Regions from separate parts of the Homo sapiens genome. Here regions 1, 2, 3, 4 and 6 are each reported to be linked to region 5. Evidence: microRNA targets listed by miRTarBase, many of them from high-throughput screens and not tested one by one. Region 5 holds a microRNA gene; each other region holds the end of a gene's coding sequence.
Evidence for each region. Region 5 holds the annotated microRNA hsa-miR-4673 (UCCAGGCAGGAGCCGGACUGGA, at 3,796-3,817, shown strand). A microRNA usually pairs through its seed, bases 2 to 8, with sites in the 3' UTR of a target mRNA and lowers its output. Matches are read on the target gene's strand: a 7mer-m8 pairs with bases 2 to 8, a 7mer-A1 pairs with bases 2 to 7 and ends in A, and an 8mer does both.

Region 1: miRTarBase lists AHCY as a target of hsa-miR-4673. Seed matches in the 3' UTR shown: 7mer-A1 at 4,272-4,278 and 8mer at 3,801-3,808.
Region 2: the mRNA of UBA6 is a reported target of hsa-miR-4673. The part of its 3' UTR that is shown has no 7-base or 8-base seed match.
Region 3: miRTarBase lists SPINDOC as a target of hsa-miR-4673. Seed matches in the 3' UTR shown: 7mer-m8 at 4,150-4,156.
Region 4: miRTarBase lists TARBP2 as a target of hsa-miR-4673. Seed matches in the 3' UTR shown: 7mer-A1 at 904-910.
Region 6: the mRNA of ANKMY1 is a reported target of hsa-miR-4673. The part of its 3' UTR that is shown has no 7-base or 8-base seed match.

Annotation. Positions count from the first base shown.
Region 1 is chr20:34,276,469-34,281,634 of GRCh38, forward strand. AHCY (adenosylhomocysteinase) reads right to left here. Exons shown (of 10, transcript NM_000687.4): 10 at 3,800-4,697. The coding sequence ends at 4,566. Among named protein-coding and RNA genes, the nearest start is that of AHCY, 24 kb to the right of the region's middle.
Region 2 is chr4:67,614,801-67,619,966 of GRCh38, forward strand. It overlaps UBA6 (ubiquitin like modifier activating enzyme 6), which reads right to left. Exons shown (of 33, transcript NM_018227.6): 33 at 1-4,332. The coding sequence ends at 4,197. Among named protein-coding and RNA genes, the nearest start is that of STAP1, 59 kb to the left of the region's middle.
Region 3 is chr11:63,826,197-63,831,362 of GRCh38, reverse strand. It overlaps SPINDOC (spindlin interactor and repressor of chromatin binding), which reads right to left. Exons shown (of 6, transcript NM_138471.3): 6 at 3,647-4,435. The coding sequence ends at 4,224. Among named protein-coding and RNA genes, the nearest start is that of MARK2, 10 kb to the left of the region's middle. RefSeq lists a silencer at 1-42.
Region 4 is chr12:53,505,494-53,510,659 of GRCh38, forward strand. TARBP2 (TARBP2 subunit of RISC loading complex) reads left to right here. Exons shown (of 9, transcript NM_134323.2): 8 at 156-357; 9 at 498-938. The coding sequence ends at 655. ATF7-NPFF (ATF7-NPFF readthrough) reads right to left here. Exons shown (of 15, transcript NR_159377.1): 13 at 2,341-2,534; 14 at 1,528-1,649; 15 at 1,195-1,400. NPFF (neuropeptide FF-amide peptide precursor) reads right to left here and starts at 1,991. Exons shown (of 3, transcript NM_003717.4): 1 at 1,880-1,991; 2 at 1,528-1,649; 3 at 1,195-1,400. The coding sequence starts at 1,981. The coding sequence ends at 1,283. It also overlaps a transcript of ATF7 not described here. RefSeq lists an enhancer at 3,112-3,406 and a silencer at 3,544-3,776.
Region 5 is chr9:136,518,262-136,523,420 of GRCh38, reverse strand. It overlaps MIR4673 (microRNA 4673), which reads left to right and starts at 3,795; the gene lies at 3,795-3,853. It overlaps NOTCH1 (notch receptor 1), which reads left to right. Exons shown (of 34, transcript NM_017617.5): 4 at 233-571; 5 at 3,856-3,978; 6 at 4,597-4,830; 7 at 5,129-5,159. It overlaps LOC124902310 (a long non-coding RNA gene), which reads right to left. Exons shown (of 3, transcript XR_007061865.1): 2 at 1-103.
Region 6 is chr2:240,475,365-240,480,516 of GRCh38, forward strand. ANKMY1 (ankyrin repeat and MYND domain containing 1) reads right to left here. Exons shown (of 18, transcript NM_001282771.3): 18 at 4,058-4,291. The coding sequence ends at 4,245. Among named protein-coding and RNA genes, the nearest start is that of GPC1-AS1, 21 kb to the left of the region's middle. RefSeq lists enhancers at 2,832-3,341, 3,342-3,851, 3,852-4,361.

The DNA of each region.
Region 1 (5,166 bases), not on the chromosome of region 5:
TCTCTCCCTGGTAATAGGGCAAGTATGACAACACTGAGCAGGGTTGATCAGACTATTACGATGCTAAGCAGTGTGAATTTAGGTTCCAATAACTTATGGAAGTTGTCAGGAAAAGCCCACCACCCAGCACCCGGGGGTCTTTAGAACCCTTGCAAGGTTGTAACTCCTCCCACCAGGGAGAAGCAGCCTCTAGTCCTGGGGGAGTCTGAGTCCAAGCAGCCCACAGAGTGAATCCTGGAGTCGCTCCTGCACCACACCAGATTTCTAGCAAAAGTCCTAAAGTCCCGGGATTGAGTCCAGACCAACTTGAGCCACATGCCTGTCTTGGAGCCAGTTTGGAGAAGCAACCAACCTGGAACTGATCGAAGCCCGCCCGGACCACTGCACACCCCTGGCTGCCTCTACCACCTCAAGCAGGTTTCCTAGCTCGGTCCCCTGGGCTAGTCCTGAGTAGGTCTCAGGGATGAGAATCCGGATTCCTGGGGTTTCCTGGAACCTCAGACTCCCAAAGCAGGGCTGTCCCAACAGCAGCTTCCTGGAGTCCTCACTGGCATCAACAGTCCCCGTGATCCGGCTTCCTGGAGTCCTCACTGGCATCAACAGTCCCTGTGGATCCTTCCTGGGTTTTAGTCCATGCTACTTCCAGACCCTCTAAGCTCATTATTTCTGGACTGAAAAGGGATCCCAGCACCTCTAGCCTAGGAGGCCCCTCCCACCACAGCCAGTCACACAGAGGTGGGCATGGGGCTTGGTGTGCAGAAAGAGCCCTGACATGGACTCGGGTGGGACACCCAGACCTGCAGAGTGACCCGGATAAGTCACAACTTCTCTGGGCCTCCGTTTCTCCACATACAAATGCTGGGTTCTGCTCCACAGGACTCTAAGGTTCTCCCTTAGTTCCAAGATCCTATGACTTCTCTAATTTTCTAATTTCCTAAGTATCCTAAATTCCCTGCTCTCAAAACAGCTCCCTCCCACCACCTGGTGTCTCATACAGCCCTTAAAACTCAGCATAAAGGCCGGGCACAGTGGCTCATGCCTGTAATCCCAGCACTTTGGGAGGCCAAAGCAGGCAGATCACGAGGTCAGGAGATCGAAACCACGGTGAAACCCCATCTCTACTAAAAATATAAAAAATTAGCCGGACACGGTGGCGGGCGCCTGTAGTCCCAGCTACTCGGGAGGCTGAGGCAGGAGAATGGCGTGAACCTGGGAGGCGGAGCTTGCAGTGAGCCGAGATCGCGCCACTGCACTCCAGCCTGGGCGACAGAGCAAGACTCCATCTCAAAAAAAAAAAAAAAAAAAAAAAAACTCAGCATAAAAACTCCTCACTAATGTTCTATCATTCGAGCGTCAAGACAGCCATCTGAAGTAGGTATTTCTGTCCCTGCGGGGAACACAGTGAGTCAGCAGCAGACCCAGGGCTCCTCTTTCCAAAGTTCAGTCCACTGCTCCATAAACAGCCACTTTCCACCAACCACAGGCCTCATCTTCCCATCTCTTTCCTGGAAAAAATCCAACCAGGGCTAGGCCTGGATACTGCAGGACCCTTGGCCAATTCCTTCTTTCTCCATGAAGCTTTGATGGGGGCAGCCCAGATATCAGGAGTGGAGTATTGGGGTATTGGGGGTGGAGCAGGAGACACATCATCTTTCATTGTGGGTACCCGGTCAGTGTCACACATGTGACAGATTAGCAGACCTGAAATCAGAGGTAAGTCTGAGACCAGATGTGAAAAGAGGGGCTGTGTTTTCTGAAACAAAAGGTTCTGGGAACTGACAGGACACCTCCGAACAGGAAAGGAAGAGGCTGGCATAACAGAAACCAGAACTCCTGGAAGAAGGGAGGTGGGGGGCTACATGGGATCTGGCAGGAGGAAGCATTCTGACAGCATTTCCCACATCCAGGAGGAGACACGCTAGAGGGAAGGGAGCATGCGCACACACAGGCAGCGGCTGTGCAGCAGAAGGCGTTCAACCTCTCTGGCTTAGAAGAACAGCAGCCTCTCCTTTTTTCTACTGTGAAGTTATCGTCCCAGCAGCCACCCCAGTAGAAGAACTGAGGCAGGGCTCTGGGTAGCCCTCTGGTTTACAGTTCCAGAGTTCCTGATCTAATGTTGGGAAATCTGAATCCAGGCTCCCTTCCTAAACCTGACCTTGCTGGTGTGGAAGGGGCTTGGATTTTGGTCTAAGTCCTACCACATACAAAAGTCAGCTCATGCTTATGGCTCCTCTCAGAGCCTCAGACAGGGGAATTCAAGTCTCTATGAGGAATAAATAAGACCATACCTTTTTACATATGATGTAAAGATACATCATATCTTTAGAACTTAATGTGAGTCCCCACTTAGTGCACTAAGGCCAGGCATGGTGGCTCATGCCTGTAATCCCAGCACTTTGGGAAGCTGAGGTGGGCAGATCACCTGAGGTTAGGAGTTCAAGACCAGCCTGGCCAACATGGTGAAACCCTGTCTCTACTACAAATACAAAAATTAGCCAGGTGTGGTGATGAGCATCTGTAATCCCAGCTACTTGGGAGGCTGAGGCAGGAGAATTGCTTGAACTCAGGAGGCAGAGGTTGCAGTGAGCTGAGATTGTGCCACTGCACTCTAGCCTGGGCGACGAGAGTGAGACTCCGTCTCAAAAAAAAAAAAAAAAAAAAAAAGGCCAGGCACGGTGGCTCACGCTTCTAATCCCAGCACTTTGGGTGGCCGAGGCGGGTGGATCACGAGGTCAGGAGATCGAGACCATCCTGGCTAACATGGTGAAACCCCATCTCTACTAAAAAAAAATACAAAAAAAAATTTGCCGGGCGTGGTGGCGGGTGCCTGTAGTCCCAGCTACTCGGGAGGCTGAGGCAGAAGAATGGCATGAACCTGGGAGGTGGAGCTTGCAGTGAGCTGAGATAGCACCACTGCACTCTGCTGCCTGGGCAACAGAGCGAGACTGTCTAGAAAAAAAAAAAAAACAACAACTCTAAAAGATGCTTGCACCATGCCTGTCACCCAAGTGTGCAAGATCTCAGCCTGTTTTGACCACTTGTGTTGTGGTCAGTTGGGAGTGGGTGCCCTGTCATTTGGTACTAATAATAGTTGAAGTACCAAAGTCTGTACACTATTTACAGCAGAGTCACATCACATACACACGTAACTTATGCAACTTAAACTATGTGCACTCAGGGAAAAAGAAAAGGTAAGAATTAATTGTCAGGCAGGACACACTGATGAGCATCTAAGCCAGAGTGAGCAGTTTTCAGCCCCTCATGCCTCACTGATCATGGGCCATTGAGTGTGACTTAAGGGTTTTACTTGACATTGTATCTTTAGAACTTAATGTGAGTCCCCACTTAGTGCACTTTTAAAAATACTGCAAACAGCCGGGCACAGTGGCTCACGCCTATAATCCCAGGCAGATCACTTGAGGTCAGGAGTTCAAGATCAGCCTGGCTAACATGGTAAAACCCCGTCTCTACTAAAAATACCAAAAAAAAATTAGCTGGGTGTGATCTCAACTACTCAGGAGGCTGAGGCAGGAGGATCGCTTGAACCCAGGAGGCGAAGGTTGCATTGAGCTGAGATTGCATCACTGCACTCCAGCCTGGGTGACGGAGCGAGACTCTGTCTCAAAAAAAAACGAAAGAGTTCCCTCTTCACTTTACCCATTCTTTCAAGCCTAAGGACCACAGACAGCCGTTCCACTGCAGAGTACCCCGTGAATGCTTCATCAGCACGACTATAACCCCCTATTCATGGCATACATTGTTGGCAGAGGATTATCTATAAAATAAAGGCTCAAAATTCTTCCAGGCACCAAGATTTTTATTTACCCACCTTCCTGCTTTCTTTTAACATTATAGGCCAAATTATTCTCTTTTTGACCCAGGGTTGTGAAAGGAACCATCTGGTTATAAAGTGGTGGCAGATTTCACGAAATCTGCCTGCATTCATGTTTTTCTGGCCCCTCTCAACCCCTAGCTGTCACTTCTCTGTTCTTTCTCAGTTGCCCCTTAACAGTCTATTCTAACCCCTGTAAAACAGGGACTAAAAGTACTAACCTCATTGTAATGAGGTTTAAGAGAAGGCCCAGCACTAAGCCAGGCTCTCAGGAAAATTCAAACAACAGTTCCTCTTTGCCCTTCAATATAGCCCCTTCTCATCTGTCATGGGCTGAAGAACCACTGGACCTGTAAACCAAGCACACAGGTATAAGTCCACAGACCAGGTGAAGGCCTAGATGGCAAAACACATGGGCTTTGTGACTCCACTACTGACTTCCAGGCTAAGGAAGGACTGACTTAGTGAGCTGTTCCAAGACCACTGAGCTCATGGTTCCCTGTGGCTGGGACCTCCATCATGACCGGGGCTTGAAGAGGGTACTCTGTTCCCGCTGCCACATTTGGAACAGTATGACGGCTGCAGCAGAGGCCAAAAACTAAGTGATCAGCCCCAGAGAGTCGATGGGGGACACTGACAAACCAATCACAAAGTTGGTGCCATTAGCTCTTAGGGAGGAGAGGTGGGGCCTGGGCAAGGACAGCAGCTGGAGGGTGAAACGCAGACCTGGCTCTCAGTAGCGGTAGTGATCCGGCTTGAAGGGGCCATCACAGGACATGCCCAGGTACTGGGCTTGCTTCTCAGTTAGCTTGGTCAACTTCACATTCAGCTTGCCCAGGTGGGCTTCAGCCACTGCCTCATCCAGCTGGGGAGAAACAAAGGAAGACCGGGAATCAGTGCCATTTTCTGGGACCCCTACACGCGTCTGGCTGCCAATAGAGGCAGAAGTGTTCTGTTAGGGTTTCTGCCATGTGTGGTACTCATGTTAACTCTTTCTATCCTCACACCCAGCCTCAGTTAATGTGTTGTTTTGGCTGCCCAGCCCCCCTCAAAAGGGAACCATGCCACACCCTCCCCTACATGTGGCTTGACAGGACCATCAATCACATCTCCTTCCTCATTCTTCAACTCAAGCAGCTAACCAAAATGCTTCTCTGGAATTGATCTATGCACAGGACATATTTTCCATGACAGGCAGAGACAAGGTGCTCCAACCCCACTGGGATTCCTAAACAGGGAAGGGTATCTATCAATCTCAGCTCACCAGTTCCAAGTCTATTTTACAAGTGAAATGAAGATAGATCCGAGAGACAGAAGGACAGAGCCATGATGAC
Region 2 (5,166 bases), not on the chromosome of region 5:
ACTATACAGCCAACAAAGAATAAGATTTATAAAGATCCTTTATGAATCAATGAGGAAAAAGATTAGCAACACAACAAAAACGTGTGGCAGTCCTGACAAGATACTTTACAAAAACAGAAAGTCAAATTGGCCAATAAACTTATGAAAAAATACTCAACTTCACAGGTAATAGAGAAATGCAGAGTGACACTTCAATGAGATACAATTGCACATCCACCAGATTGGCAAAATTAAAAACAAAAACTGTTAACACCAGCACTGACCAAGATATGGAGAAATATGGTTTGGATATTTGTCCCCTGCAAATATCATGTTGAAATGTGATCCCCAGTGTTGGAGGTGAGGGCTGGTGGGAGGTGTTCGGGTTATGGGGATGGATATCTGGATCCCTCATAAATGGCTTGGTGCCCTCGTTGAGATGACGAGTTCTTGCTCCATGAGTTAATGTGAGATCTGATTCTTAAAAATGATCTGGGACTTCCTCTATTTCTCTCTTGCTCCTCTAGCCATGTGATACGCCAGTTCCTCCTTTGCCTTCTGCCATGATTGCAGGGATGCTGGTGCAATGTTTGTACAACCTGCTGAACCATGAGCCAAATAAACCTTTTTTCTTTATGAATTACCGAGTCTTGGATATTCCTTTATAGCAACACAAAACCAACCAACATACTAATGCTTAGAAAAAAATTTGTAATCATCTAATAAAATTTAAGATATGAATACCCTATGACCAAAAAATTCTACTCCTAAATATATACTCTTTGTACTAGGAGTTACATAAAATGATGTTCATTGTGAAACTGTAATTGCCTGAAACTAAAAACATCCCAATTGTCTACAGTAAATAAATTGTGGCATATTAACAGAAAAGTAAATTACACAGACATAATGAAGAATAAAGTACAGCTACAACCAACATGAATCAATCCCATCTTGAACAAATGCAGCTACAAAAGAATGTATGATTTTAAATAAAACTCAAAAACAAGCAAACTGTATTGTTTAAGTTTACACACATAGGTGGTAACACTATAAAAACAAAGAGACAATTATCATACAAGGTAGGATAGTGGTAATTACCAAAGGGTACGTGGCAGGGAGCTGGTTGTGACTGGGAAGGAACTACATGTGTAATTTCTGAACTGCTGTCAATATATTCTACTAAGCTGAGTGCTAGTTATATAGTTGCTTTAAAATTATTCCTTGAACTGCATATTTATATTTTATGTATTTTTGAATATATATGTGTTTTTGAAAAATATATATTTCTCAATAAAAAAACAAAGTTATGACATAGAGCAAAATGAACACATATTATCAATGGATACTTAACTCTGATCCTCAAGAGCTCAACTCTGATTTTTTTTTTTTCAGAGAAAGCATTCAGATTATATGTTTTTGAATCTATGAAAAGTAAAATCGCTAAATCCATACACAGTGATTATATAAAATTAGATATTTGCAATCACAATGAATATTCATTATAGTGGAAAGATTTAGGTCACGAGATTTTTTTTTTCCCTAAAAATTTCAAAAGAACAATTTTCTATCTTCATTTTACTAATTATAAAATAAACATAGTTGCTTTTTTAATGTTCCATGAATATCACCAGAGTGTGACATAGTAGATTAAAAAATAAAGATATACATTTATTTCCATGTCCTACCTTTGGGACAATTTATGAGGAACTTATGGACAAGTAACAGAACTGCTTTGAACTCTAAAAAGAAATGGACTTTACAAATCCCTAACCAGTAGTATGGGATTTACCAGATCCTCTAGGTTTTACATGGTCACGACTATTTCTCTCCAACTGTTTTAAAAGAATTTCCTGGAGCCATCTGAGGACATTTGAGGTAATGTCCTTCCACACCTAATAACTGCTGTATCTCCATGATTGCAAACTTGAAAATCAGGAAACACCAAAGCAACATTACTCACAAAATAAACAGCAAAATCAGAATCTCTGGAGTCAACTTATGAAACATGATTTACAAAGATATTCTTACATTTCTTAATTTATTTTTAATAAGTAAAAAATACTCATTGAAACTGTACAAAAATCAAATCATTAATTTTTGCACCTGGTATTTCAGTCATCAACAGCAATCTCATGGTACAGAAATAAAATAATGGGAATTATCATTAACTTCACCCTGGCTTTCTAGCTTAGTAGAACCAAACAGAAGAAATCATGGCAATAACCATTAACTATAGAAAAAAAGTAATGGAAAAATGGTTGCAGGTTTAATCACAAAATGAACTTAATTTTTGTTGATTTTGTTTTATCTGCTAAAACACTAATATCTATAAATATGAACTGACAGCATCGTTCTAAATTTACTTCTGAAGAGCTGTCGAGACTTCAATAAAATATAAGCAAGTTACTGGATCATATTTATGGACTGCTGAATTAACTACCCGAAAAGTATCAGTTACTTTCAAAGAACACAAAACAAAGTGAACGTGGAAAAAAGCCTTCTTTGCAAAAGTCCTTTTATTAGTCCTATCCTCTAAAATTCCAAGCCACAGAGCCTTGATATTCCTGGATTCTGTTTTAAGTAACCTTAGTTTTAAATATGACACTTGGGATATGCACAATGGGAAAGGGTAGGATATGTGAACAAAATTTAATTTCTTTTTTCCAAAGGTAGTCATTTTCTTTAAATTCATCCTATCCACTTTTGCCCACTTCCCCATGTACAGATTATCCTTTAGTCATACAAATTCACTCTCCACTTCCACATACATTTTCCCCACTTGATGGTACTTTTACAAGAGGGAAACAATACAGCTGGTTGATAAAGTAATTTAAACTATTTGTAAATGAAATAAAAAGAAAGTAGGTATAATACATAGTGTAAAAGATACCAAATTGGAGTAATATTGATGTTAATCTAGTTTTTTATTTAACAAAGTACCTACTAATGGTCTGAGCAGGAGAGTAGAAGGAAAGGAGCTAGAGGGAAATTACTTCCTATGGTTAAAAAAAAGCCAACTGCTTCAGAATGCATGACAGTCTTAGTAATAAAAGAATCATTTACTATTTTCACTGAGTTTACAGTGTTGGGTACTACTGTTTACATCATTTTAATGAAAGTATTTATAAAAACATCTGCAATAGTTCATATCAGAAAACAAAGTTTCTCTCAATAAAGACCTTAAAAAATAAATTTTTATCTTCATTAACTCCCTTTCTGGGAATGGGAATGAAATAACATGCTTCTGTTTAAAAAAAAAAAACAAAAAAAACACAAAATTTAATACCCTAATTAGGTTTCTGGAAAAAAAAAAGACTACCCTAGCAATAATTTTTAACATTCTACATTTCATCTATTTCTAAAGACACTCCCTTTACAAAATCTTTTAGTTTTATATATTAGGACAATCAGGTTTAGAGTCTCACATAAATAAAATAGCCACATTAGAAGGCATACTGAAGAATCAAATGGTTAGCCACATTTGTCTGTTCACATTCACGGATTCTCTAAGAGCGTTGTGAGAGTCCATATAATACTGTTCACGTTTAGTCTAAGTTAATATGTCTCATCTGACCTATTGCTCCTACAACACTGATGCTATCAACAAAAATCCTGATTTTGGGGACACAGTGATATAACAAACTGGTTAAACGAGCAGAGGTAATAGGACAGTAAACTGTAACTGCACAATTTAAAATATCCACCCTTCATCCACCACTACCATACTTCTTCCCAGTGGTATTAAATTCTCAAAGCCAAATCATATCAGAGGTGCAGGATGCCAAACACTATTTGCATAGAAAATCAGTCTTCAAGACTAAACAAAAAAGAAATTCATAAAATTAAACTTTTTGAATAGTTGCATTCGTTGCTTTCAATTTCTTCATCCATATCTGTTCTGGTCATACATATTTTTTCCTTCTTTTTATCCAGAGAGATTAATACACAGATTAATACACAAAACTTTTGTAAATAGCATTCCAGTTCAAAGTTGCTTGTGATCATAGCCACGTGTGAACCGTTAGACAAGTGTATGCTATGCCCCAAAATGTTTTATAATTCTTCAGTGCAGTTTCTTACTGATGTTTCCCTTAAAATTAAGGCTTAATGAAAGAGAAATCCATAGTATTATGAACTGATTTTCTTTAGCTTCTGAATTAAGTGCACTCTTTCCAAAATCAAGTGGTCCTGGAGTAACGTTAAGACAACTTGTATTAATCAGTGTCATGACTGAAGTAGTATCTTACTGGAGGTCCCGGCAAATCTTCATCTCCATCAATGTCTGGAGCAAATGACACAGTAAGATCCACATATTTCTTTTCAGTAGTAGGTTTTACAAGTTTATGCATTCTAAGAAAAATAAGCAAGAATGAATACTTTGGTAAATTCTATAAAATGAAAAAATGATTTGCTGACTAATGCCATCCAGAGAACCTGGACTTGTATCTAGACTTTAACATCTAATAATAATCTGCTTTCACATATTCATTTTTCTTTACTAAAAGGTCTGAACTCATTTATACTCAAGACACTCATTTACCTAACAGTGAATAAATTTGGACACACTGGTCATGATAAAGAATACAAACCATTTATTAAAAGACAAAAAAAGGCTCAGCGTGGTGGCTCACGCCTGTAATCCCAGCACTTTGGGAGGCTGAGGCAGGCAGATCACCTCAGGTCAGGAGTTTGAGACCAGCCTGGCCCACATGGCGAAACCCCATCTCTGCTAAAAATACAAAAACGAGACGGGAACAGTGGCACATGCCCGTAATCCCAGCTACTCGGGAGGCTGAGGCAAGAGAATTGCTTGAACCTGGGAGACAGAGGTTGCAACGATTTTAAAAAATTGATTTTCCTCCTAAACTTCCTCTTAAGTTTGGAGGCATCATAAATTCAAGCATTTCTCTGTAAACAGTAAAAAAGCAAGCTAGAATTTAAACCTTAAAATGTAAGCTAGAAATACAAAGTAAAAGACATTCTTAGCTTTTTCCCTTATGTCCAATCTTTATCCTATTTACTGAAAAATCACTCTTTGCTATAGCCACTACTGCCTTAAATGAAGTCATCATCTACACACCCCTTACATCATTGTATTGGCTTCTAGCTAGCTTTCTCTAGTCTCTTTTCTACTTCCAATCTACACTGCTCCTAGAATTCTCTTAAAATATAAATTTGATGTAT
Region 3 (5,166 bases), not on the chromosome of region 5:
TAATGGGGTTTGGGAGGTTCCAGGTCAGGGACAGCACCCCATCCACATGCCAGGAGGGTGGCTCACTCCAACTCCACTAGGACAGAAGCTCCTGTGCTTGGAACCCTTCTGAACCTCGCCCTCAGTACCTCATCACCTGTTTGTTTATATCCTATGTAACATCCTTTATAAACAAGTAAATGTAAGTAAATGTTTCCCTAATTTTTTTTTTTTTTTGACAGGGTCTCATTCTGTCACCCAGGTTGGAGGGCAATGGCGTGATCTCTGCTCACTGCAACTTCCACCTCCTGACTTGAAGTGATTCTCCTGCCTCAGCTTCTAGAGTAGCTGGGATTACAGGTACCCGCAACCACGCCCAGCTAATTGTTGTATTTTCAGTAGAGACGGGGTTTTGCCATGTTGGCCAGGCTGGTCTCGAACTCCTGATCTCAGTTGATCCACCCGCCTCGGCCTCCCACAGTGCTGGGATTACAGGCGTAAGTCACCGCGCCCGGCCTGTTTCTGTGATTTTTGTGAGCCATTACAGCAAATTATCAAAACTGAGGAGGGGGTTGTGGGAACTTCCAAATTTGGGCTGGTCAGAAGTACAGGTGACAAGCTGGGACCTAGAACTGGTATCTGAAGCAGGGGCAGTCTGCTGGGACTGAGCCCTTCACCTGCAGGGACCGTGCTAACTCTGGGTAGTGAGTGTCAGAACTGAATTTTAGAACAGCTGGCTGGTGTCTGGAGAGTCGGAGAATTGATGTGGGCGCCCCCCTCCCCACTAACATTGGTGTCAGAAGTACTGGGAATGTAGAAAGTTTTTCCTTGTTAGGTATCCAAAAAGATCTCCCACACCTGGATCCCATGGAAGGCAGCTGGGAGGGCAGGAGGTGGCTGGCTTCAGAGAGCCAAGGAGGTCTGGGAAGTCAGGAAATGGGTGTGTGGCTCAGCAGTCAGGGGCAGCGGCACCCTCTTCCCCAACTTCTTCAACCAAACACATGGTTGGGCCACAGCACCACATGGATGAAGGTGCCACCACCAGCCCTGAGAGTCACCGACATTCGTGCAGAGCTTCCCTGGTGTTGCACCAGGATGCAGGACCAGCGTCACGGACTCCAAGCCGGTGTGGAGTAGGAAAGCCCTGGGCAATCCGTCAGTAAGGTCCTTCCAGCCTGGGCTGGAGTCATATCCTCAGCCCCACTTTCTCCAACTCTTTCCTGGAAGCCCAGAGGTGCCACACACAGCTGCTGGCCACACACACTCACATAGTCCCCAGGGCCCTGGCTGAGGCTGGGGAGACCCCTATTGGCCACAATGTGGGGATGAAGTTCCCACCCTGCACAGTCACTGTAGCAACCACCCTGTGCTGAGAACCACACTCCAGGGACCAACATGCACTAGAAAAATGTCACACAGGAATACACACTCAGAGGGCACTCGAGAAACATTTATTGAGCACCTACTATGTGCCAGGCCCCAGGCAGGACACTTGGAAAACAAAGTCAATACAACCTGGTCCCTGCCCAGGAGCTCACAGTCTAGAAGGCCAAGCCATTAATCATAGAACAGCAAAGGGGCATTTGGCTTCACAATTTTACAACAAACTTTTACATACGTTTTCTCAAGTGTAAACACCCAGCAACACAGCCATGTTGTTTTAAAAGCACATTGGCATAAATGTAAACACAAGTCACAGGATTGAAAGGATGAGAGAAAACCATTTGCAGTATTTGTGCTTGCAGAACCAGATTTTTAGCATTATTTATTCCCTCCTATCAGGTAGGATACAAGTTTTGCCAATCTGTGGATAATGGTGTTTGAGACATGGGAGTTCCGTGGCCGGCCTGCCTGCCTGCCATCATGCAGTGGGGGAGCCACACTAGATACAAGGCATCCTGAAGCCTTGGCCACTGCCTTCTGTCCACCACACCTGTCTTTTAATGTCCCCTAGACAAAGACCCTGTATATTTCTAGGCTCCTCCTGAGCTTATCAGATGGGGAGAAGGGATCATGTCCCAGGAGCCCACCAAGTCGTGAGATCCCTCATACCTGGCTTGGCACATGGTGACACCCCATCAGGTGAGCACACAGCACACGCTGCCCAGGCCCAGACCCTGCCTGCCCGAGATGAACTTCCTGGTTAGTCTCAAAATCTGGCAGTGTTGGCCGGGCACAGTGGCTCACGCCTGTAATCCCAGCACTTTGCGAGGTCGAGGTGGGTGGATCACCTGAGGTCAGGAGTTTGAGACCAGCCTGGCCAACATGACGAAAACCCCATCTCTACCAAAAAATACAAAAATTAGCCAGGCATGGTGGTGCACGCCTGTAATCCCAGCTACTCGGGAGGCTGAGGCAGGAGAATCGCTTGAACCTGGGAAGCAGAGGTTGCAGTGAGCCAAGATCGCAGCCTGGGTGACAGAGCAAGACTCCAACTCAAAAAAAAAAAAAAAAATGTGCCAATGTCAGCGTCCTACAGGAATAGCTGCCCTCCAAGTCCCACCTGTGCCCCCACTTCTCCTATGTGCACATTTGTCAGCATGTGCAGAGGTATACAGTCCTGCTTACCACACCTGCCATGGGCTCTAAACAGGACAGTACAGCTGGGGTTTGAGAAGGGGCTGCCTGTGTGCTCCATCTCACCAAAGGGAAAACCACGCACAGATCTGGCCCCTGTTGGTTTAGTTTAGGAAGGTAAGGAATCCGGTGAAGAGACCAAAAGTGGCCTCCTCATGATCCAGGGAATAGGGGAAACCAGCAAGTGTTTGGGTTTAATTAAGCCAAGGGTTGGGGGGGATGAAGGTGGACAGCTGAGGGTGCAGGCCTGTAGGGCTGGAAAAGGCGGGGCTGAGTTTAGGACCCCTGTGCCCCTCACCATCATACGGAAAGGGAGGAGAGGCATCTTTCTACCTGCAAGCTGGTTACCGCCATTTCACTTTAGAAAGCTCAGGATAAGCCGGGCGTGGTGGCTCACGCCTGTAATCCCAGCACTTTGGGAGGCTGAGGCAGGTGGGTCGCCCGAGGTCAGGAGTTCGAGGCCAGCCTGACCATCATAGTGAAACTCTGTCTCTACTAAAAATACAAAAAATTAGCTGGGCATGGGCATGGTGGTGGGTGCCTGTAATCCCAGCTACTAGGGAGGCTGAGGCAGGAGAATCACTTGAACCCAGGAGGTGGAGGTTGCAGTGAGCCGAGATCGCGCCACTGCACTCCAGCCTGGGCAGCAAGAATGAAACTCTGTCTCAAAAAAAAAAAAAAAAAAAAAAAAAGAAGAAAAGAAAAAGCAAGCAAGCAAGCAAGCAAGCTCAGGCTAATTCCCAGCTCCCTGGTTGTGAGCACCCCTGGGCTTCTACAGTGACCTCTTTTGGGCAGAGGCCTACCAGGTGAGCCAGAAGGTACAATGTTAAAGAAAATTGTTTCTGACCCCCTTTCCAGAGCAGAGAGGAAGGGAGGGGGTGAGACGCCCACAGGTGACTGATAGCACAAGTCAGCCCTCGTTCCTGGGCTCCACAGAGGCCTGCCCTGGTGCTGTCCCACCTTCAGGAGAGGTGGCTCCCTGGCTCCCCCCAGGACCATCTTCCAACCCTCCTGCCCCTCAGGGTTGCTCTAGGTGGCCAGGTATCCTGCTAGCAAACCCTCTCCCCCAATGATGGCCCAGACGGAACTCTTAATAAAAAAAAATAATTTATTGTCAACAAAGGTGATATATACAACAGGAAAACAGATGTAAATGAGAACGGGAGTGAATGGGGTGCCCAGGCCCAGCTTCAGGCCTCTGCAGGGGTGGGACAGGAAGAGGTAATGGAGGCCTCCTGGTTTAGAAGCCTGAACAAGTGGGGAGGAGAGGTGTCCCCCGAGGTAGTGGGACTCAGTTCAAACCCCCTTATGACCACTCTTGTGTAAGGCACTGTGCCAAGGGAGAATGGTGGGGAGCAGGGGGAGGGTGGGAGGAGGTCATGGGGGACAAACAGAGGTGGGGGTCAGCGAAGGACTGGGGTAGGTGTTCTCCACAGGCCCAGTGCCCTACTGCACAACAGCCTCAGCCACCCTCGCCGACCTCAGGCCTGGCCAGGAACAGACACTTTCCAGTGCCCCGAAATAACAGTGGATGCTGCCCCAGCCCCCTCCTGCCCTGGCACCTGTTTCTACTCTCTCCACCAGGTGGGTGAGCCAGGCAGCTCTGAGTTATAAGCCACTGGGGGACGCTGCCTCATCCCTCCCTCCCTCCCCAGGAAAGCAAGAATTTACACTCCATTCCCTTTTTCCGGCTTCCCTGCCACAGTGGTGCTGGATTCTGACAGAACTGTGGGCCAGTCTGAGGTGTCACCTGCTCCCACACGCTTGGTGCCCTGGGGGTGCCTGGACCAGTCTTGCAGGAGGCTGACCGCTGGGGGCTCCTCCATCCGCACGCGGATAACCTGGAGATCCAGTGTCCCGCGGAGCCCCGGAGGGGGAGCTGGGCAGGGATGAGAGCAGAGAGCAGTCAGAGCCCCCCAGACACCCCACCACGAGGATGCCCCCTGGAAGCTCCGCAAACTGTACCCACATTTCCAGGGCTTTCATTATGTCCACAGCCCAGTGCCTGGCATGAGGGGAAGCCCAAGGATGGCAGGGAGCTCCACTCCTGGGTGATCGAGGACTGCTGCCAGCTAGAAAATGAGGCGCACAGCCTCCCTAGGGACAAGCCAGCTGAAGCCAGGCAGCCTTCCTCCTGTGTGTATTTTGGCACAGGGACGCCTGGTGCTCGTGCCTCTTCCTGTAACTCCTACCTGCAGCCAACTCCATTTTATCTCAAACTTACTGGGCATCCTAGCCTAACGGGTTCTGCCTGAGTGGGGCAGAGGTGATGGGGTGGGAACACCCAGAAGCAGTCTAAGGCATAGCTGTGCCCACCAAGGAGCTCATGAGGGACTACGTGGGGGACAGAAAAGACCCCTGGCGAACTTCCACCAGGCTCTTTATCTCCTGAGTGTCAACACCTACATCACCAAGACCAGGTGTCCACCTTACCAGTATGGAGAAGGCACTCATAATGGGCAAAGCTGGGCCTCGAGGCAGAGGAAAGAGGACTGAGGACTGCCGTGGCTGCGTGCAGCCATAAAAAACGAGCACGCAACAGGGACGTGTGCAAAGGTTACGTTACATTAGGGCTGGGCATGATGGCTCATGCCTGTAATCCCAGCACTT
Region 4 (5,166 bases), not on the chromosome of region 5:
CCTGGTAGTTAGAAGGGGCCACCCAGGGATTGACTGGGGGGAGGCAAGCTGGAGGAAGCATTCTTTGTGCTTTGTTCTCCTTTGACGTTGAATGTCTCAATGCCTGGGTCCCACAGTCTCTCGCTTCATCTTTCTCACTGTTCCCATCTTGACAGGGTGTGGGCTCCCGCCTGGATGGTCTTCGAAACCGGGGCCCAGGTTGCACCTGGGATTCTCTACGAAATTCAGTAGGAGAGAAGATCCTGTCCCTCCGCAGTTGCTCCCTGGGCTCCCTGGGTGCCCTGGGCCCTGCCTGCTGCCGTGTCCTCAGTGAGCTCTCTGAGGAGCAGGCCTTTCACGTCAGCTACCTGGATATTGGTATGGCTAGCTGGGGAGCGAGCCAGGGGATGGTGGGGGCTGGACCGGAGCAAGTAGAAGGGGGTGATGATAACGTGAACGCACCCCTCCCCAGGGCTACCTCCCCCAACATTGCCTCCCTCCTCTCTCTTGCTCTCCAGAGGAGCTGAGCCTGAGTGGACTCTGCCAGTGCCTGGTGGAACTGTCCACCCAGCCGGCCACTGTGTGTCATGGCTCTGCAACCACCAGGGAGGCAGCCCGTGGTGAGGCTGCCCGCCGTGCCCTGCAGTACCTCAAGATCATGGCAGGCAGCAAGTGAAGCCCCAGCTGGACTCATGGATGTGCACCCTTTGCTCCCTGCTCTTTCTGCCTCTGGGCTCATGTATCTGCGCAGCTCTGGTACCCTCTGTGGGTGCCATCTCTACCTCTGACACAGACTGCCTGCCTTGAAGCTGAGAAGGCACAGGGCAAGGAGCCAAGGACCACAGAGCCTCAGCCAGCCCAGGATCCGTCCTCATTTTATTGGTGATGATGAATGGGAATGAAATCAGGGGGCTGTCTACTAGAGCCTGGAATAAATATGCTGCTTTGTGGATTTTTAAGCCCTTCTCTTCTGTTTCCTTGAGCAGTGTGGATAGCAGAGGAGGTCACCACATTACTTTTGTGTGCCTTCCCTGAGCTCCTGTTCCAGCCATTCTCCTGTTTTCCTTTCTGGTGGGAGGAGGCTGGGCACAGTGGCCTCGTGGAATGTTGTCGGCTGCCTTGCTGGAGGGCTGGGTTTGGTGGAGGGGAAGGGCAGTGGTTCTTGCCCTTGGGCTTCCACCCAGCCCTGTAAAGTCTCACACAGACACACATGGATTCAGAAGCCAGACAATTTTATTTGGGGGGCAAACATTGACACTTTTGGGTGTGGACCTTGCATGCAGACATATCAAGGGATGACATGTCACTTCTTCCCAAAGCGTTGAGGGGCAGCCAGGCTCCAGAACTGGGAATTCAGCCCCTCTCCAGCCCGGGGACTCAGCCATTCATTCCTCCAGGATCCCTGGGTATTTCTGCCAAACCTTAGGAAAGATTTGTCCTCAGGTCCCCGCAGTCTCCCTTCTCTAGCCCCCTTCCTTCTCCTCTTCCTCTGCCTCCTGCCCTTTCCACCCCCAGCCCCTGCCATGCTTGTGTCCCTTTCAGACTCACCTCTGGGGCTGAAACAGGAAGGCTTGGCTCCGGCCAGGTCTCTCCATTGCCTGGAGCAGGTAGTGCAACAGTGACCCAGAGGTCTGGGCATCCTGTGGTGGGAGGGGTTCGCTGTCTTCCTCCTGTGCCAAGGGGGTATCAGGGAAGGAAGATGGGCAAATACCCTGGACACGTAAGTCACAAGGGGAAGGGACTGGCTTCCAGGGGCAAGTGGTAGGAGGCTGCGGAACCATTTCCTCAGATGTGAGGACCTAATGACAACCTTGGCAGCCAGAGAAAGTATCAGAACCTAGAGCACAAGTCTCAACCGAAGTAGAGGCAATGGTGATATGGGGATGGGACACACACTCACCGCGGAGAGCTGGTCTTCCTGCTGGCCTCCTGGCCCTTCAGCACAGCCCCCGTCTATTAACAGCAGCAGCACCAGCAGTGCAGCAGCCTGCCTAGAATCCATGCTGCCACCTACCCTCCTACAGCCACCCCAACCTCTTATACCTGCTGTTCCCCCACCCCCAGCCTCACAGTAGCCTTAGGGGAATCTAGAGCAGGCAAATGGAAATGCAGGGCTCATTAGGAGCCACCTGGGATCTCCTCCCATGGCGCCCCCAGGACTTCATGCTCTCAGCCTCCTGCCCCCGGCCCCTAAGCCTGGAGTTACAGACTTTATTAGATGCATAAATCCTGTCTCCAGAGCTCAAGAAGCATCATTAGTTGCAGACGCTTTGTCAGAGCCAGGCCCTGGGGAGCCTTAGACGAACCCCTAATCCCTCAACAGGTTGGAGAGCTTGTTTATCACTTCCCCTCTTTCCTAACCTGTAGACTAAAGCACAAGAAACTCATGTCAGGAGGGGTTAAGTAGGATGTCCTGGAGTGGAAGAGGAGTGGGAAGAGCCAGGGTCAGAGTCTGTGAGGATGACCAGGCCTGGTCCTCTGTGCCTGGGGCTGGCAGTCAGGGCAACACAGCCCATCCTCTGCTTGTGTGCCTCTTGGAGGCTACTCAGATTTGCCTGTGGATAGAAAAAATATATTCAACTTCATGATGATGGAGAGAATTTAACTTTTTTTCTTTTTGAGATGGAGTTTCGCTCTTTTTGCCCAGGCTGGAGTGCAGTGGCGCGATCTCGGCTCACTGCAACCTCTGGCTCCTGGGTTCAAGTGATTCTCCTGCCTCAGCCTCCCAAGTAGCTGGGACTACAGGCGTCAACCACCATGCCCAGCCTGTATCTTTTTTTTTTTTAATTAAAAACCATTTTTTTTTTGGCCGGGTGCAGTGCCTCACACCTGTAACCCCAGCACTTTGGGAGACCAAGGCGGGTGGATCACCTGAGGGCAGGAGTTCGAGACCAGCCTGGCCAACATGGTGAAACCCTGTCTACTAAAAATACGAAAATTAGCTGGGCGTGGTGGTAGGCACCTGTAATCCCAGCTACTCAGGAGGCTGAGGCAGGAGAATCGCTTGAATCGGGGAGGCAGAGGTTGCAGTGAGCTGAGATGGCACCACTACACTCCAGCCTTGGCAAAAAGAGAAACTCTGTCTCAAAAAAAAAAAATTATTAAGATATAGAGGGAGGCTACAGGATTTTGGAGCCCACTGAATGAGTGTGGCTTCCAATCTTTGCAGACAGACCCCCATCCTCACTAGAGAGCACTGCTTCCGACCTGCCTCATCGCCCTTCCTATAGTCACTCTCCACAGCTGAAGCACTGCTGCCACCCTGTGGTCACAGCTCCTCATTGCCAGCTCCGGCCATTTCCTTTTCCTAGAATAGACCTCTGCAGAGGAAGTGAGGAGGGTGAGGCTGAGTGGAGGTGCTAGGGTCCAGTCTCCAGGGAGTCCCAGAAGGACAGGAGCAGGCTACTGTGGGGCTGGACTATCATTCTGACCCCGACTCTGGTCTCCACAGCCTCTGCCTGGCCCTGGCTCTCATATAGAGTAGCCTAGAATCCTGTCTTAAGAAAAATCAGAATCACTAATCCTCAGGGAGAGGCCTTCAAAGCCATATGGTGCAGGTTCCTTCTAATCCTCGAGTCCCTTTTGGAGCATCCCCACCAGTGTGGGTCTCTAGCTTGTGCTGAGGAAGAGCCATGACGTAAAGGCCTTGGCCTCTGCTTGAGCAAGCTGTCTCCCGCTCTGAGCTTCAGTTTCCTCACCTGAAACATGGGCCCATTTTACAAGGAACGCCTTCCTAGGGTGTGCATTACTTAACATACTTTTTGTAATCCATTCAATAAAACAGCTTGCATAGAACAGGTATCCTCAAAACGTTAGCTGTGATTGCCTCATGTGCCCCAGTCGGGGAACTTACCATCTCCTCAGACAGTCTTCGGACATATTTATCCTTGTGCCGAGGGGGCTTTGGGCTTCCTGTGACTTCTACTCGGGGTCTTAGTTTGCTCCATTAAGTCTCAACAGAACATCTCATCTCTTTCATGTGTAAAAGCTCTTCATATTTTTGAAGAGAGAGTTCATTCTTACACTCCAGCTTTTTTTTTTTTTTTTTTACGATGGAGTCTGGCTCTGTCACCCAGGCTGGAGTGCAGTGGTGCGATCTCGGCTCACCGCAACCCCTCTGCCTCCCGGGTTCAGGCGATTCTCCTGCCTCAGCCTCCCAAGTAGCTGGGATTACAGGCACACACCACTATGCCCGGCTAATTTTTGTATTTTTAGTAGAGATGGGGTTTCACCATGTTGGCCAGGCTGGTCTTGAACTCCTGACCTCAAGCAATCCACCCACCTTGGCATCCCAAAGTGTTGGGATTACAGGCGTGAGCCACCGCACCTGGCCCACTCCATAGTCTTTTTTGCTCAAGGGGAAGCACCCCACTCTTTAAGGCAAGGCATCTAGGAACCAACTTATCCTTTAGACACGTAGATTAGAGCAGGTTTGGATCTGGATGCTCCAGATACCATATTTCTGTTAATGCGGACTAAGCCAGGGTAAACCTTTTCGTAAGCTTTGTCTCATGGTTGGTCCCAACCACAAAACCTGACATTCATCATCATGGTATCTTGTAGTTTTATCTTTTTTTTTTTTTTGAGACGGAGTTTTGCTCTTGTTGCCCAGGCTGGAGTGCAATGGCTTGATCTCGGCTCACCACAACATCTGCCTCCCAGGTTCAAGTGATTCTCCTGCCTCAACCTCCCGAGTAGCTGGGATTACAGGCATGCACCACCGCGCCTGGCTAGTTTTGTATTTTTAGTAGAGATGGGGTTTCTCCATGTTGGTCAGGCTGGTCTTGAACTCCCGACCTCAGGTGATCCGCCCGCCTGGGACTCCCAAAGTTTTGGGATTACAGGCATGAGCCATTGCACCCGGCCAGTTTACCACTTCTTAAAAGGGAGTATCAAGGCCACGGGGAGATGGCTTTTCTGTGGGCAGTAGCTGCTGCATCCCAGAATGATCCTTGTCTGCTCCTGTGTGACAGAGGTCCAGAGGAGCAGCGGTGTGAGGGTGGATGGGACACTGCAGAGCTGGTTCTGGGCCAGACAGAACTCAGTTGTAATCCTAGCTCTTGCACTTCACTGTGTGACTTGGCTAAACCTCAATTTATCATCAATAAAATGAAGTGACTACTCCTGTTATCACTAGGTGAACAGTAAAGCAATCTACCATTCCACGTAGCATAGGGCAGCCATTCC
Region 5 (5,159 bases):
GGGTGTCTGGAGGTGTCAGCTCTGGGAAGAGACGGCCCAGGCTCAGGCCTCTTGGGAGCTGTGGTCCTTCATCTGCCAAAGGCGACCGGTCTCACGGCAGGTCCTGAGGATCAAATGTGATAGCACCTAAGGTGGAGCCCAGGCTGGCACCTCCAGGTGGCCTGAAGGGAGGGAAGGCCCGGCCTCGGGGAGCAGTGAGGCCAGCACGACCCTCTTGTCCCCTTGTCTCCAGGGAAATCGTGCCAGCAGGCTGACCCGTGCGCCTCCAACCCCTGCGCCAACGGTGGCCAGTGCCTGCCCTTCGAGGCCTCCTACATCTGCCACTGCCCACCCAGCTTCCATGGCCCCACCTGCCGGCAGGATGTCAACGAGTGTGGCCAGAAGCCCGGGCTTTGCCGCCACGGAGGCACCTGCCACAACGAGGTCGGCTCCTACCGCTGCGTCTGCCGCGCCACCCACACTGGCCCCAACTGCGAGCGGCCCTACGTGCCCTGCAGCCCCTCGCCCTGCCAGAACGGGGGCACCTGCCGCCCCACGGGCGACGTCACCCACGAGTGTGCCTGCCTGCCAGGTAGTGCTGCCCGCTGGCCGGGGTGCACGAGCCCCTCCCCGGCTGCCAGGCCCAGGGGGTGGGAACGGGGCGCCTGGTGTAGGGGCAGCCCTGGGAGGGCCCATGGCGGGGAGTTGGGAAGGCGGGATGGCGAGTTCCCCAGACTGCGTGTGGTGTCGGGGGGACGCGTCTGGAGCGGGGTGTGCGCTGGGAGGAGGCTTGCACAGGGTCCAGGTGCCAGCCCGTGTCTCTGGAGTTTCCCGGAACTCACATTCGAGCTGTAGGACGCCCTGCCTCCCCCCAGTGCAGGCACCCTGACTTGCGCAACCCCCAGGGTTTCCCCTGCAGTGGGGCTGGGGCCGGAGAGGGCGTGGGAGCTGCGGGGGCACCATCACTTCCCAAGCCATGGCCCTTCCTGCCATCCTGCTGGTCTCCTGCGGGTGTGGGTGACAGGTAGGCGCAGCCGCCTGCCCGTGTCCCCAGTGCTCCCCGATCCCCGTGTTGTACGTAGGAGCCTCTCTGCTGTAGTTCTTGTTTGAGTAAATTTTGCAGCAGCTCTAAAAATAAGGAAGAGTTTTGAAAACCTCCAGTCTCGGCCGCGCGTGGTGGCTCACGCCTGTACTCCCAGCACTTTGGGAGGCCGAGGTGGGCAGATCACAAGGTCAGGAGATGGAGACCATCCTGGCTAACACGGCGAAACCCCGTCTCTACTAAAAATACAAAAAATTAGCCAGGCATGGTGGCACGCGCCTGTAGTCCCAGCTACTCAGGAGGCTGAGGGAGGAGAATCACTTGAACCCGGGAGGCGGAGGTTGCAGTGAGCCGAGATCCCGCCACTGCACTCCAGCCTGGGCGACAGAGCGAGACTCCGTCTCAAAAAAAAAAAAAAAAAAGTGAAGAGAAAAAAGAAAACCTCCAATCTCAGCTGCACAGAATGGCTGTTAGGTGGGAATGGGGAGAGGGCATTCAGGCAGGGGTGGGGCTGGAGGGTGCACAGGGTCCTGGCTGACCCACGGGTGGCCCAAGGGCTGCCCCACCCCCTTGGAAGCCCCAAGCTGGCCTGGCCCCTGCAAAGGGGAAGCTCCCTGGCTGCCCAGTCAGCTGAGCCCAGCCACCTCTGCGTGCAGACACCAGACGTGTGCGTTTCCTGCAAGTCACTGGGCGAGCGTGGGGTGGGGACAGACACTCCCTGGCCAGCTTGGATCTCTGCAGGGTGGGGCGCAGAGCCCTTCTGCTGGTGGGGGCTCAGATGCCTTCCTAGCAGCACGGGACCCTACCTCCAGTCACACGGATTGAGGGGCCAAGCTCTTGGGGGGCCGTGGTTCAGGCTAGGGCAGGTGGGGTGTGTGCGGCCTTGTCCAAGGCCACCTGTGTGCAGAGCTGATGCCCACCCGCCTTGGGCAGGGTGGGTGAGGACCTCCTGGTGAGGCCCAGCGGCAGAGATGCCAGGGGTGCTGGGCCGGCTCAGAGCCACTGCCCGTGCAGGGGCAGCTCAGGGCCCTGGGGAGTGGGCAGGGAGGGAAGGGGAGGGGCTGGTGGGGTTCACTCACTTGAGTGTGGGTAGATCTCAGAGGCTGGGGTGCTGGGGGCTGGGTCACCCGTCCGGTGAGGGGTGTGCTCACTGCCTGCTGTGGAGTCTGGCCGTTTCAGGGTGAGATGACCATCCGGGGGCCTCCCCAAATGACTCAGGCCTGCCAGACCCCAGCTTCAGACTGTCCCCGGCGGCCCCTGCACCCAGGCCCCCTGAAGGGCCCTCAGCCACCTCTGGGTGGTCAGGAGCCCAGGAGACAGCTGTGTGTGGAGTCACGGGGAACCGAGATGGGGGCGGCCCTGAGCTCTGCAGGCCCGGGAACTGGCTGGGATTTGGGGTCGCACAGCCTGCCTGGCACGTCAGCACTGTCTCCTCGTGGGGTCGCTGGCCGAGGCTACGTCGCAGAGGGTCCAGCTGGGGTCCACGGGGCTCTCGCTGGCTTCCCGCCCTCTCCCCCACTGTGTGCCTCAGCCAGTGCTTTGCAGGGCAGCCCTGGGGTCGCAGGCCCAGCCAGGGGCCCCATCTGCCTCGGAGCCGGGGTGCAGGGCCCCACACATGAGTGGGACCGGGACTCAGGCTCCAGGCTCTGAATTTTTTTTTTTTTTTTGAGACAGGTCTCTGTCACTCAGGCTGGAGTACAGTGACGTGCCCTCAGCTCACTGCAGCCTTGACCTCCCAGGCTAAAGCGATCCTTCTGCCTCAGCCCCTCAAGTAGCTTGGGACCACAGGCCGGCGCCACCACGCTTTGCTACTTCTTGTATTTTTTTTTGTAGAGACGGGGTTTCGCCATGTTGTCCAGGCTGGTCTTGAACTCCTGGGCGCAAGCGATCCACCCACTTCAGCCTCCCAAAGTGCCGGGATTCCAGGCGTGAGCCACCGCGCCAGGGCTGGGGTCTGGTTTTGGGTGCTCCCCAAGCTGATTTGCATTTTGGATTTTGGTTGTCTCTGGCTGCCTGCTTTTGCTCCGGTCCAGCAGACAGACAGAACGGACGGGGTGGTGGCGGTGGGGCAATGTCTCAGAGGGAGGGGCCGAGCAGGTGGGAGCTCCAAGGGCAACGGGGGTTCAAAGGCATCTCGGGAGGGCGGCAATTAGTAACCGGCTGCAGGTTTGGCTGTTGCCGAACGCGCCTTTCTGGGTTGATCATTGAACCAGCGGGAGTTGAGTGGATTAATAGCTAACTGGCTGCCTTGGAGGCCTGGGTGGGGCCATACCTCGGGGGAGGGGGCCCTGGCAGCCTGTGGAGGAGGAGGGGGAGGAGGAGGTGGGCACCAGAGCTCTGCCCCAGGGAGGATGGGCCATCTGAATCTCTGCAGCTTCCCTGGGGCTGCGAGGGGCCCACCCTGCCCCAGCCAGCAGCCTGCTGGCCCCATGTCCCCCTGCTGCTCAGAGCCCAGGCCCCAGTGTCAGCCCCTGAAGATGGGGTGTGCGGCCCCCCTGTGGAGACATTGTAGGGAGCTCTGAGCATGCAGGCGGCACCCAGGTGCAGGAGCTGCCGGAACCTCTTAAAAGAGACCCAAGGGTTTTTGTGACAGAATCTTCTGGAACCCTGTGTTCCTGAGTCCCTGTTTAGCCAGTCCTGTCCAAAATGATTCTTTCAAGCAGGGCGTGTCCCTCTGGGCACTGGAGTGAGGCAGGGGACGGGCACAGACCCCGGGGGCCCCAGGGCAGGGCCGTGGAGGCCAGGCTCTTGTGTCCAGAGCAGTGTGTCGGGGGTCCAGGCAGGAGCCGGACTGGACCTCAGGGAAGAGGCTGACCCGGCCCCTCTTGCGGCAGGCTTCACCGGCCAGAACTGTGAGGAAAATATCGACGATTGTCCAGGAAACAACTGCAAGAACGGGGGTGCCTGTGTGGACGGCGTGAACACCTACAACTGCCGCTGCCCGCCAGAGTGGACAGGCGCGTATACGGGTCGCCGCAGGGCGGGGTAGCCGGGGCGGGGCTGCTACCCACTTACTAAACTGCACTCACAGGCATAGCGGGGAGCAGCCGAGACCCTGTCCCAGGCCAGGCAGACTAGGGTTGGCCGAGAAGGACAACATGATGGGGGCCCCACTTCCCGTGGCCAGGGTCTGGTGCCCCTCACCTCGGGGGTCAGCACAGACAGGGCCCTGGTTGGTCTGTGTGGGCCGTTTGCAACCTGGCTCCAGGCAGCCCCTGTGCCCAGTGGGGTGTCCTGGCATTGAGGGCCTTCAGCACCCCACTCAGGCCACGCTTCCTGGGCCAGTCACAGGGATGCCTGGATGAACAGACAGGCCCTGTGTTCGGGAATTACCCTCTGGTGGGGTGACGGGCAAAGGTGCACCCCGACGCAGCAGTGTCCACAGAGCACAAAGAGGAGGCAAGACTCCATGGTGCTGGGCCTGCAGAGGAAGGAGTGATTTAGGCTGGCGGTGGGTGGAGGAGTCAGCCCAGGAAGGCTTCCTGGAGGGGGCGGCATTGCCACCCTGCGTCTTAGGGGACAGGGAGCTCAGGGAGTGGCAGCTGCCCGGGGCCGACAGCTCCTGTTCCCTGCAGGTCAGTACTGTACCGAGGATGTGGACGAGTGCCAGCTGATGCCAAATGCCTGCCAGAACGGCGGGACCTGCCACAACACCCACGGTGGCTACAACTGCGTGTGTGTCAACGGCTGGACTGGTGAGGACTGCAGCGAGAACATTGATGACTGTGCCAGCGCCGCCTGCTTCCACGGCGCCACCTGCCATGACCGTGTGGCCTCCTTCTACTGCGAGTGTCCCCATGGCCGCACAGGTGAGTGCCTTGAGGCCCAGGTGGGCGCAGGGGGCTCACATGGGCCAGGCCTGAGCTGTGTGACCTCACCCAGGGACTGTGGCCCTCCTGCACCCAGGATAACCTGAAAGGGCCTTTCTGGTCAGGGAGGCCGGTGGTCGCTGTGAGTCCCCCGGAACGTCCCAAGTGTCACGGGATGCCCGACGGGGTCACGGCGGGCAGCTCCTCCTGGGGTGTCAGTGGGGTTGGACCCCAGCCGTGGGTGGTGTGCCATGCCTGGCCCAGGGGCCGTGCCCACTGACCGCCGCTGCCTGCCCAGGTCTGCTGTGCCACCTCAACGACGCATGCAT
Region 6 (5,152 bases), not on the chromosome of region 5:
GAACTATCTGAAAAGGAAATTAAGAAAACAATCCCATTTACAATAGCATAAAAATAACAAAATACTTAGCAATAAATTTAAGCAAGGTAAAAGATCCTTGCTTAAATACTTAAATAAAATACTTAGCAATAAATTTAAGCGAGGTAAAAGAACCTTGCTTAAATACTTAAATAAAATACTTAGCAATAAATTTAAGGGAGGTAAAGGATCCTCACTTAAATTTATTGCTAATTATTTTATTATTTTTATGCTATTGTAAATGGCATTGTTTTCTTAATTTCTTTTTCAGATAGTTCATTGTTAGTGCATAAAAACACAACTAATTTTTGTATGCTGATATTGTATCTTGCAACTTTAATGAATTCATTATTACGTCTAACAGGTTTTTTGGTGGAACTTTTAGAATATATACTGAATACCATAAATATATAAATACTATAAAATATAGAATATATACTGCAAACTATAAAATATTGATGAGAGAAATTAAGGTACAAACAAATGGAAGACATTTTATGTTCATGGATTGGAAGAATACTGTTAAAATGTCCATACTACCCAAAGCAGTTTACAAACTCAATGCAATGTCTATCAAAATTCCAATGGCATTTTTTTTTACAGAAATAGCAAAAACAATCTTAAAATTTGTGTGGAATCACAAAATACTCTAAACAGCTAAAGCAATCTTGCAAAAGAACAACAAATCTGGATATATCACACATCCTGTTTTAAAGTATATTACAAAGCTGTAGTAATCAAAACAATATGATACAGTCATAAAAACAGATACAATGAAACAGAATATAGAGTCCAGAAATAAACTCACACATATGCAGCCAACTAATCTTTGACAAGGGGACCAAGAATATACAATAGCAAAAGGAGCCTCTTTAGCAAATGGCGCTTGGAAAGTCGGATATGTACATGCAGAAGAGAGAAATTGGACCCTTATCTTACACCATATACCCTTATCTTACACCATATACCAAGTGACCACAGTATCATCTCACAAGCCAGAAAACTCTGCTCAAAAGATGCCAACTGTCTGCCAATCAAATGAAACAAGATAATTGCTAAGTCCCAACGAGACATTTTAGAACTTGACACACACTGCACAATTCATCTGGAAGAAAAAGCACATGGTCACCGCAGGGCCTTTCACAGGGCCGGTGAAGAGGAGGGTGGGCCTGTCCTGGCAGATGTGAAAAGGCCACAGAGCTGCAGGTGGAGACAGCAGAGCACAGAAGGGGCCCCTACGGCAACTAAGAGGCAGGCATATGCCCACCAGGGAAAAGAAATGGATTACTCGATCACGCCCATTGTTTGGGGATAGATCTAGATAGCTGGCTCTCAAACCTTACACAAAAATTAATGCTAGATTGGTTATACAATTACAGGTTAAGCAGTAATTCATTAAAACGGTGGTGAGAATCTGGGCAAAGGCTACCCTTGCATACATAAGCCCAGCAAGGGACTGCTCTCTACGCACTCCAGCAAGCCAGGCCCTGAGGAAAGGACACGTGGATTTCACAACACGAGAAAAACTTCCACGTGCAAACTGCAAACTGCAAGACAGTTATTTGCACACAAGGCATAGGAGAAGTTGCTGTGCTTTAGAGAGTTCCCATCCATCAGGAAGAGCAAACATCTCCAATGAAAAGGGACCAGTGGAGGCCGGGCGCAGTGGCTCACGCCTGTAATCCCAGCACTTTGGGAGGCTGAGGTGGGTGGATCACGAGGTCAGGAGTTTGAGACCAGCCTGCCCAACGTGGAGAAACCCCATCTCTACTAAAAATACAAAATTAGCTGGGCGTGGTGGCGCATGCCTATGATCCCAGCTACTTAGGAGGCTGAGGCAGGAGAATCGCTTGAACCCAGGAGGCAGAGGTTGCAGTGAGCCAAGACCCTGCCATTGCACTCCAGCCTGGGTAACAAGAGAGAAACTCTGTCTCAAAAAAAATAATAAAAATAAAGAATATGTTCCCCAAAATGCTCAGAATGCTTATCCCTGAATTTTAAGATTAAGATGATTTTCTCATTTTTAAAAATTAGTTGTTAGCATCTTTCTCTCATCCAGGCCAGAGCACAGTGGTGCCATCACAGCTCACTGTAGCCTCACACTCCTAGTTCAAGCAATCCTCCCACCACAGCCTCCTGAGTAGCTGGGACTACGGTGTGTGCGACCACACCTGACTAAGATCTTTTTTTTAGAGACAGGGTCTATGTTGCCCAGGCTGGTCTGGAACTCCGGGGCTCAAGCAATCCGCCTGCCTCGGCCTCCCAAGTCACTGGGATCACAGGTATATGCCACCTCCCCCAGTTATTTTTATCACTCTTGTCTTTGCTGTCTTCTTTCTTAAATAAGCGTATATTGCATATATAATAAAAAATAAAGCTATATTCATTTGGGGAAATTATGTTGCAGAAAAATATTTAATAACATAGATGTTCATGGCCTAGTTCAGAACAGAGAGGATGCTCCCACTTTTAGATACACGTCTGTCTGTGTGCACTCATGCCTGTAGAGATCAGAAGGACACACACAAAGCGTTGGCCATGGTAATATCCAGGTGTCTGTGATACGCTTTGGATCTATGTCTCTGCCCAAATCTCATGTTAAATTGTAATCCCCAATGTGGGAGGTGATTGGATCCCGGGGGCAGACTTCCCCATCTGGTGCAGTTCTCGTGGTCATAGAATTCTCACGAGATCTGGCTGTTTTGAAAAGTGTGTGGCAGCCCCTCCCCTTCCTCCCGCTCCAGCCATGCGAAGTGCCGGCTTCCCCTTCTCCTTCCGCCATGATTGAAGCTGAGCACATGCCGCCATGTTTCCTGTGCAGCCTGCAGAACCCTGAGCCAATTAAACCTCCTTTCTTTATACATTTTCCGGTCTCTGATATGTACGTGTAGCAGTGCGAGAATGGACTAATACAGTGCGGATAATTGTCACTTACAGGTTCTTTCTTTTGCTTTGTAGATATTCTCTAACTTTTATAGAATTAAGTGTACCATCAAATAAGTATCCATTAGCAGCTTTTTCCTTTCTAGCAGAGGTAGTGGAAGCCGGGGGTGCCTACACCCACCCAGCATCCCAGACCCCCCTGAGCAGGAACAGCTCTTGGCGGCAGGGAGCCAGCTCACACAGTTACGACCCTCCCAGGGGCAGCCTGTGGCTGGTGACCAGCCGATGCAGGGGTACAAAGGCCTGGTCCCTGCGTCCGTTGGGAGCCCCTATGAAGAGCCACCCAGCGGTCAGCTTGTCCCTCTGCCCAGGCTCACTGCTGACCCCTTACAGAAGCCTTTCCCAGGGCACCCCCAACAAACCCCCAGCATGGAGCCCATCTTTGGCGAGACCAGGAAAGTCAGTAAAAAAAAAAAATCACTGCAGGTGCAGCTGCTTTGACAGCCACAAGCCAGCCTGGAGCGGGGTCTCACCTGCTTGGCTCCAGCCCCGACACAGGCTCCCACCCCCCACACTCCCAGCTATTCTGCCCTCAGCAGCAAACCCCCATCGTCCTCATCCCTGGACGCTGTCCCCTTGTCTCCGGGGATGCTGTCGTCCTTCTCCAGGTCCGCCCCTCACTGCGCATCTTCCCCTGCCCTCTCCGTGAATTTCCACGCAGGCCACCCTCGAAGGCAACACTGCTCCCTGTCATGTGCTCCAGGCCCTCCTTCCTCTCATTCCCAGTGATTTCCACAAACACCATCGTCCCCAGAACACTCAGCACACAGCAGACACTCCGTAAGTGCACGGGGAACAAACGAGCACCGCAAACCCCAGTAGGAGCCTTGCACCCATGGGCACCTGAGCAGGGAGTGGAGCCTGCTGCCGCGGGCTCCTGGCAAGGTCCCAGAACAAGCTCCAGAGACCCAGGAGCTGCCCCCACCGCCATCTCTGCAGCAGGCTCCGAGTCCTGACCCTCACCTGCCTCGTCCATCAGGATGGCCCAGGCCATGCCCCATGGGAGGCCAAGCAAGATCAAAGCCAGGGGCAGAGGCAGGCACGGGCTCCACAAAAGCTCTGGGACTTTGCCCAGCTAGGGGCAGAGCACAGCACAGACTGTCAAAATCACCCCGTGGGGCCAATTTATTGCGAGGTCGCAAGGGAGACACTGCTACAAAGCATGACCCCAAAGGTGCAGAAATGCCTGCATTAGGCTGGAAGATTCCCTGAGGTGGCTCAGGCAGGTAAGAAACCCACACAGTCCTGGGTCCTCCCCAAGCCTCGGACGTGCAGCTGCTGCTTCACTGGAATTCTTCTCTCCTCCTGGAAACTTGCTCCAGTTGTGTCACTGGAGGAGGAAAAGGTGTGGGGGAGGGGGAAGAGGGGGCTGGAGCTGGCCTCCCCCGAGGCCTGGCTCCAGAACTCGGGCTGTGTGGGGCGGCTGAGGACTGTGCTCTGTCTAGAGCTTTTGCAGGCAAGGAGTCGGGATGCAGCAAGGACTGAGGGCTATCTGCCGTGACTCTTCAAAGAGGGGCCTGCCACACCCACCAAGTCCCATCCTGGAGTCTACAAGCCAAGGAGCTGCGACCTCACCGAGGGCGCCTGTTATTAAAAGCCCCATTGGCTGCGCGCGGTGGCTCATGCCTGTAATCCCAGCACTTTGGGAGGCCGAGGTGGGTGGATCACCAGATCAGGAGATCGAGACCATCCTGGCTAACACGGTGAAACCACGTCTCTACTAAAAATACAAAAAATTAGCCTGTAATCCCAGCTACTCGGGAGGCTGAGGCAGGAGAATCACTGGAACCGGGGAGGCGGAGGTTGCAGTGAGCCAAGATCATGCCACTGCACTCCAGACTTGGCGACAGAGCAAGACTTCGTCTCAAAAGAAAACAAAAAGCCCCATTTTATGGAGGGGGAAGGAGGTCAGCAGCCATTCACTTCAGGGCACAGGCCTAAGGGGGCAGGGGCTTTCCCAGACCCACTCCCGTCCCCACCAGGCCGGGAACCCAGCCAGGTCCCAGTAGAGCGGTCACCACTGCACAGCTTCGCACACCAGCCTCGGCAATGCCCGCCACCCTTGCGGCACCGGGCCCTGTTCACACCAAGGAGGTGAGGAGGGGCTTGCGGGAGACCAGAGTGTTTCTAGAAGCAGACACCTGTTGACGTCCACACTAAGACAGACATCTGAGACGGCAGGCTGGGAGGA